Linked DNA regions of Homo sapiens: region 2 is linked to region 1. The links come from fine-mapping of genetic effects on gene expression. Tissue or cell type: whole blood. Region 1 holds a variant in brackets; the other region holds the start of a gene. All regions are shown on one strand. Distances are between the middles of the regions. Region 1 overlaps LOC124903282 (a long non-coding RNA gene). Region 2 holds the start of ANG (angiogenin).

Evidence for each region.
Region 2: it holds the start of ANG, and the variant in region 1 is fine-mapped to the expression of ANG in whole blood (TOPMed, PIP 0.95).

Annotation. Positions count from the first base shown.
Region 1 is chr14:20,708,771-20,713,003 of GRCh38, reverse strand. LOC124903282 (a long non-coding RNA gene) reads left to right here. Exons shown (of 2, transcript XR_007064061.1): 2 at 1,286-3,211. Among named protein-coding and RNA genes, the nearest start is that of EGILA, 3.9 kb to the right of the region's middle. The variant A/G (reference allele first, on the strand shown) is at 2,150.
Region 2 is chr14:20,686,173-20,690,405 of GRCh38, reverse strand. ANG (angiogenin) reads right to left here and starts at 1,642. Exons shown (of 2, transcript NM_001097577.3): 1 at 1,532-1,642. All of the region lies in intron 1 of RNASE4 (ribonuclease A family member 4), which reads right to left.

The DNA.
Region 1 (4,233 bases):
GGGCTAAGGTATTCCCCAAACACAGTGCCCTCTAAAAAGAGAGGCTTTAGAGGGGATACAACCTATATTACAGAAGTTTCTAAAAAATGGACAAATATGTCCTTACAGATCTCCATACAATGCCCCTATCCTGACTGTTAAAAACCCACACTCAAATGAATATTGATTTGTACAAGATTTGGGAACCATTAATGACATTGTTCAAGACATTCACCCAACTATGCCCATCCTTTACACCTTACTAACTGATAAACCAGGGCAGTATGGGTAGTTTTCGGTATTAGACTTAAAAGATACTTTTTTTTTTTTTTTTTTTTTTGCATCCTGATTGAAGAGAGGGACCAGATGCTGTTCACCTTTGAGTGGCAAGACCTGGAAACAAAAAACACCTTCCAATATTGTTAGGCTGTATTTTCTTAAGGTTTTAAAAACTCACCCACCATCTTTGGCAAAATATTGGCAAAGGGCTTCAGAGATTTTCAACTAGATGATGGGGTTCTGCTAAAATACTTGGATGACTTGTTAATCGCAAGCCAAGACTATGAGAGGTGCCTATCTAACACTATCTTAATCTTAAATTATTTGATATAATACGGACGTAACATATCACCTCAGAAAACTCAGATTTGTAAACAAGAAGTGACCTATCTTGGCTTCTGACTAAAAACAAGGAAAGCAGAGCTTGATGTCCAACCAGAAACAGGTGATAGCAGCAATAAAGGCCCCTGGGAATGGAAGACACTGTGGGGGGTTTTAGGTGTGGCAGGTTTCTGCTGAATCTGAATCCCTAATTTTGGACTCATAGTCAAACCTCTCTACAAGGCTCTAAAGGGATTAGATTCAGGAGCCCTAAACTGGATGGCTGAATGCCTTCAGGCATTTGATACCATCAAAAAAAAAAAAAAAAATAGTGTCAGCTCCAGCATTAGGACTGCCCAATTCTTGAAAGCTATTTAGACTCTATATCCATGAAAACCAGGGCACAGGACAGGAAATACTAATTCAACTACGTGGGAATTCCCCACAACCCATAGCCTACTTTCCCAAACAACTGGAGCAGATTACCAGAGGATGGCCACCTTGTCTTCAGGCCGTGGCAGCTACGTGTGATATCTTACAGGAAGCAGAAAAATTCACCCTAGGACAGCCCATTACTGCATTTGTGCCTTATCAAGTGTTAACCTTATTGTAACAAAAGGGAGGTTACTGGATGATAGCGGGGCATATGGGCAAATACCAAGCCAGCCTATTAGATAACAGAAATGTTTTCTCCAAACCACCACAGTCTTGAATCCTGCCACCTTGCTCCCAGCCACTGAGTCCAACTATGAACTGGAGCATAATTGTTTAGAAATTCTTGATGCAGTCTATTCCAGCAGACCAGATCTGTCAGATCATCTGATGGCCACTCCGGACTGGGAGCTATACACTGACTGAAGCAGTTTCACAGAAGGAGGACAACGCCAGGCCAGGTATGCTCCAGTGACCCTAGACAAAGTAGTAGAAGCCTATGTCCCCGCTGCTGGTACTTCAGCACAAAAAGCTGAATGGATTGCTCTCATCAGGGCCTTAAAACAGTCTCAAGAGAAATGGGTAAACATTTACACCTACTCCAAGTATGCCTTCTTGGTAGTGTATGCCCGTGGGGTCATTCAGAAAGAAAGGGGATTCTTAACCTCAAGAAATAAAGACATTAAACACCTGCTGGAAATTTTAGCTTTGTCAGAGGCAGTTGTTCTGCCAACTCAAGTTGCTATTATGCACTGCCAAGGCCACCAAAAGGATGACTCCCCAATAACCAAAGGGAATCAAGTGGCTGATAAAGCTGCAAAGCAGGCCACTCAAGAAACATATTTACTTGGGACCTTAATACTCCATTTAAACTTGTCAGAATTTAAACTCCACTACACTGAATGAAATGAAGAATGCACACATGAGTGGACATTGACCAACACAGACCCTTGTTCCTCATGGAAAGCTAACACTCATGGGATATTACTCTCTGAGGCCCTGGTATACCCAGTCCTGAAAGACCTGCATGAGGGGACACACTATGGCAGAGATGGACTGGCTCACCTGGTGTAGCCATATCTCAAAGGGCCACACCTTCAAAAGATCATTCAAAAGATTATACAAGCATGTTATCTAT[A/G]TACCCCAAATGATTCAAGAACTGCATGCAACTCTTCCCAGAGGAGGATACAATACAAAGGAATATGACCATTCGAGGACTGGCAGGTTGATTTCACCCAGATGCCAAAAACACTGGGATTTATAAGTACCTACTAGTGTTTGTAGACACATTTTCTGGAAAGGTTGAAGCTTACCCGAGCAAGAGATTGAAGCCTATCCGAACAAGTCTGAGAAAGCTGCAGAAGTAGCTAAGGCTCTGCTAAAAGAAATCATTCCTCGATTTGGACTTCCTTACTCCATACCAAGCAACAATAATCCTTCTTTAATTTCTGAGATCACACAAAGGATAAGCCAAGCATTACAGATCAAATGGAAATGACACTCTTGTTGGAGGCCACAATCAACTGGAAAGACTGAAAAGATGATCCACATGCTAAAAAACAAAAACAAAAACAAAAACAAAACAAAACAAACAAACAAAAAAACCAAAAAAAACCCCTGGCAAAACTCTATCGGGAAACAGATTTAAAATGGTAAAGGGTTTTACCTATTGCCCTGCTATGGATTGGGGTAGCACCCTGAAGTGGGCTTAAATTAAGCCTTTTTGAAATTGTGTGTGGGAGACCCTTCTGAAGTTCTTGGCCAGGGACCCCACCCTTGGACTTAATAAATTAATCAAGAATTAAACAATATGTACAACAACTAAGACATAAATCACTAACCCTGCACAAGTTTGTTCTTTTTGTTCTTTCCAGTTTTATGTGTCTTACAAAAAAGCCCCTTCACCCTTTTCATCCAAGGATAAAGTGCCGCTAAAATCTTGGTAAAAACAAGGACTGGACCAACAACAGCCAGCCAAAAAGTGGACAGGTCATTATGATGTTTTATTAACTACTCATTCATCTGTTAAGCTGGCTGGAGTCAAACCACGCATACATCACATTTCGGTAAAAATCGCCCCTCCCCAACCTGACACAGCAGACAATCAACCTGGTTGGACTTGTGAGCCAACTGGAGAACTGAAGCTACTGCTTAAGAAAAATCTTTTTGTACTATAGGATTAAATTTCTGTTATTCTTTATCATAATGAGTAAACTTTTTTGACATCTGCTAAAACTAGTCTATTTCTACAGTGGGCATAACATTATGCAGATAGTCTACACTAAGATGCTTGCTGGGTATGTGGATTGCTACCCATCTCTAGCACTTCTGGGCTACTTTAGTGAGTATCACCCCTGCAGGGGACTGATTAGATACATTTACAAACGTATATGAAAAACTGTTCATGGGAAAATCAGGACCTTGGTAACTTAAGGTAATATTTTTTAAAAATGGCCTGGCATTAATATAACGCTTCAGAATCCAGATCCTGGAAAACTCTTCATTATAACCGGACTATCCAAAGGACCTCTGAGTATGCAATCCCTCTCTTAAAGGAGTTTTCCTAGATGGCCCCCAAGATTTTGGCTACTAATAACCATTACACGGTAGGTGAGTTTTTATCAAATTTGGGACGATTACCTCTGGATGATCTCCACTATTAGTCACTTAACCCAAATTGCCACTTCATGTTGGGAACAAAGGAATCACTCTTAGAATCATTGGCCGAATGTTACTAAAAATGTGGATAGGATGCCTCTACATCAATATGAACATTCTTTAGTGCTATATTAGACAAACCTGTTTACCACTGATTGGACACAGACCCAAAATTTGGTGGCTGGTCCCCAGTGGAACTCAATAGTTATGTGAAACTAATCTTCGGCCATGTCTACCTGATGGATGGATAGGGCAGTGCACGTTAGGACCCCCATAGGTCCGGGGCTGATTAACAAAAACCACCAGGCAGCCTGCACACTTTCCAGATGTGTTACACCAATGGACCAGGCCGGTTTTCCCTTCCTACGACCATCTCCTGTCCCTTGTTTTCCCCCAAGCAGGCTTAGAAAGCATCATCTGGCATATTGAGGCACTTACAAATTATAGCAAGTGCTGAAAGACACATTTAAGGGCATCTCATTAGTAACCTCTGAAATGACTATGATGGGAAAAGTAGTCTTGCAAAACCACATGGCCCTTGATGTACTCACAGCTGCTGGGAGG
Region 2 (4,233 bases), 23 kb after region 1:
AAAGTGAATCTGCCTAAGCCAAGGGTGCAAAGCCTCACATCTGGTGGCAAAAGTCCTATAGATATATCCTTCTGTACCCAAACACGTAACTGTCTGTCAGCTTTTTGTCAGTGGAATTAGTCCCAGCTGTTCTCTGTCCTTTTTTTCTTTTCTTTTCTTTTTTTTTTTTTTTTTTTTTTTTTTTGAGACGGAGTCTCGCTCTGTCGCCCAGGCCGGACTGCGGACTGCAGTGGCGCAATCTCGGCTCACTGCAAGCTCCGCCTCCCGGGTTCACGCCATTCTCCTGCCTCAGCCTCCCGAGTAGCTGGGACTACAGGCGCCCGCCACCGCGCCCGGCTAATTTTTTGTATTTTTAGTAGAGACGGGGTTTCACCTTGTTAGCCAGGATGGTCTCGATCTCCTGACCTCATGATCCACCCGCCTCGGCCTCCCAAAGTGCTGGGATTACAGGCGTGAGCCACCGCGCCCGGCCTGTTTTTTTTTTTTTTTTGAGACAGAGTCTTGTTCTATCGCCCAGGCTAGATCGCAGTGGTGCTATCTTGGCTCACTGCAACCTCCACCTCCCAGGTTCAGGCAATTCTCCTGCCTCAGCCTCCCAAGTAGCTGGGATTACAGGCGGCCACCACCACGCTTGGCTAATTTTGTGTATTTGGTAGAGACGGGGTTTCGCCATGTCGGCCAGGCTGGTCTCGAACTCCTGACCTCAGTTGATCCGGCTACCTCGGCTTCCCAAAGTGCGGGGATTACAGGTGTGAGCCACCACACCTGGCCCCAACTGTTCTTTAGAGTAACTTTATCTTCTGTATCAAATGAATCTGTTAGTATTCACAAGAATTATTCTCTCCCTCTCCCCACAGGCAATGTTCAGTATTCAAAAGATTCATCAAATTTTACACACCAGGGAGTTAACTTGACAGTTTATGATGAGTAACTATAGTTATCATTTTCATCAATGTGGCTTCACACTTTTATACATCCTAGGGCAAAATCCCCCAAAGTAAGAGCCTAACACCCAAGGCATATTCATCCCTTTATTGCTTTTCCTTCCTTCTTCCCTTCAACCTGCCAGTGAGCCTTCTTTTGATCTTGGGATGTGTTCCACTTTGTTTGAAAGAGCATCCAAAACTTTTCTAAGAAGAGAAATTAGCAGGGAAGGTTAGAAGGAAACAATGCTAAAAACATACTGTTTCTTTCCTTGTTAAGCCACGTGTAATGCCTGTAACAGGGGTGGACGACGGGGGAGGACTCCCGATGGCCTTCAGCAAATGGCTCCCCCAGGCCTTTGGGGATTTTATCACAATTTAGAAATCCCTCCTAAACTTCCACTTCCTCCCAGTCTCACTAATTTCTCTTTATCCACACATAGGCCATCCCAAAAGAAACCTGTTTTCATTTTAAACTTTAGAATCTGATCCATTTTCTTTTTAATTCATGAGCTTGAGCCTGGAGGCTTTAAAGGGAGGAAAATGGTTTCATTAAAATGGATGGATGGCTAGAAATAATATATAAAACAAATTGAACAATAGTTTACCCAGGAGGAAGAATCTTACAAAAATCTGGCAGTTTCCCTTCAACGGGAGATGGGTTCCAGCTGTTTGTTCCTGGAGATGGGTTCCAGTTGTGTGAACCTGGAGGCCTCTCCAGGTTCTGATTATATAGTGTTCCTAATATATAGTGTCCCAGTCCTGGCAGGGACATGAAAACCAAGGACACTGCTCTTGAACAAACGAGGAGGGTCATTCACCTTTTCGCTGGGCATGATTGGGTTAGATATTAACCCACCTGAATGGATTAGAGATTTGTTCTGGAAGACAAAGTTTGAGAAACATGGCCTTCTGTCCAAAAGTTGCCCTTTTCTGCTGTCTGTGGTGCTTACTCTTGTTCATGGCAGGACTGAGGTTTCCCTATTCACACATAATAGTCTGGATCCATAAGATAGCATCTCTGATCTCCCTGGGCCAACTCCAAGAACTGCCTTGGAAGATGTCACAGAGTAAGATATGGTCTTCCAGTAGGATGCTTTTCCACTGTACTATTTATCATTTATCATATCACATCCTATTTATCGTATCACATCATTTGGTTTCATGAACGGATGCTAAGCACGTTATTCCATCGATTTCATACAGCCAGGAAAGCACTTCCAGAGAAGGTTGTGTGACAGCTATTAGTACACTGCCCCTCCCCCTACACTCAACTTCTCAGCTTCTAACCCCCAGAAGCAGGCTTGCCATGTTTCCTGGGTTTCTCCTTCTTCCATCTTTACCTGTCCACAAGAGACTAACCCTGAACATTCAATCTTCTGATCCTTGTAATGTAGTTGCAAAATTGCTTATCTCCATCATCAAAGCAGGGCTGTAGATCCATTGCTTGCGTAAAAACAGTGGGCCAAAGGTCACCAGGATCACCTTATAGATCTCATAGTTTCCAATATCAGACAGCAGCAGGGTACCAACTGTTTCACAGACCCCCAGCATTTGCCCACAGTGGTGTTGGATCTAGGACAGTGTTATCTTTTTAAAAATCCTCAATCCTCTGTTGTCACCCACCTAGCTGCCAAGTATTCAGTCTGGCTGCACTTGAGAAGGTGTCAAGAAAAGACAGGCTGCCTGCTAGTAAAACAAATGCACTTGAAATCACAATAATTATAATATTCAGTGCAATCTTTCATTTTGTGAAGCTCTCACATACATGACTACATTCAACCAACACCAGGACTGTGTGAGGTAGGCATTATGTAAATATGCTCTGCTCATGAGGAAACTCCAAGAACAAACAGCAGATGAATGGTGGAGTCAGACTTTGAACCCTTCATAAGCAAGGAGAAAACTGACCTGTCTTTCCAGGCTTAGCTCAAGCAACACCACCTCTGAGTCCCGAAAAGCGGTACCCTGCCACAGCATACAACCCATATGCGCCTGCACACACACAGCCCCATGGCCTGAAGCACCAATTCAAGCACCGACTCACACAAACAGAGCAGCCTCTGATTTTAGAGTTCTGCAGTAGTGCTGAGGTGGGGCAACCAGCAGCCTCTGAATATAGTTAGGTCCCTTCTCTGCCTCTGGGCCTTCACTGGACAACCTTTGGAGGATACACAATCTGCCCACAATGCAAAAAGACAGTTTTATGTTTTTCTTTTAAACTTGGCACAAGGAAGTTTTGTTGAAATGAAAAGTAGGGTTTGGGGGAAAAATTACTATTTCATTAGAATGCATCTAAGCACTTAGTCATTTGTGTTTAAAATACAACAAGGAATTATATTCTATGATTAAGGAACATCACATCTTTGTCAGTAATTTTAATACAAATGAAGGAATCGCCAATTGCAAAAAACCTCATATATTTTTTAAATGTTCAGACAGCTTTAACTTGAAAGTCATTCCCCTTTCCTGGAGATTTTTTTCTCTCTCTCCCTCAAGCCAATAATGTCCCTGCACACAGACACGGGATGCACGGGTCCTGTTTCCAAGGACCCTAGTGTTAGAGCACTTTCCTCCTTCATACAGAGTATATATGTATCATTCTGTCTTAGGACTAATTATAAAATTAGATGATGGGAAGAATGGACTAAATAATTTCTATATTTCTTTATTATTCTAACACTTTAGGTCTATAAGCATGAACTTATTCAATAACGGAAGTAACAGGTAAAGAAGGAAAAGCACACGTGGCAAGAAGAACCACGTCTCCAGGAAGAGGCAACACTACTGATTGAAGGACAGTGGGGACAAAGTCCTGCTGACATGCCTGTATTTCCAAACAAAGACAAAAATTAAACATTTGCTTTTCAACCAACTCTGGGCTTTGTGCCCACTCACTCTTTGTTCCCATTCCCTCTTTCCCAAGTATTTCATGGCATTCTTCCGGGAATAACTGTTTACAGAGAATTACAGAGAATCTGCTTAAATACAGATTCAATAAAAACTCCTAAAGAAAGGTTTCACTGACCTTCATTGGTCCACTTTTTTATCCAGCTACTTTAATTTGAGTCACAGTGACCAATGCTTCCAACAATAACTTGACAAACCTCTTACTCTTGCCTGCTTATAACCTGATTATCTGTTTTCAACAATAGCTAAAGCCATTCCTCTTTTCCTGGAATGATTTTTTCCATCCTCTCTGCCAAACGATAGTTCATCTCCACATTACTAGAGTGCCTCATGTCCTGTTACTAACATCGTACCACTCCATGGAGTCATAGAACAAGAGTGGGAGGGGCCTCTGAGACTC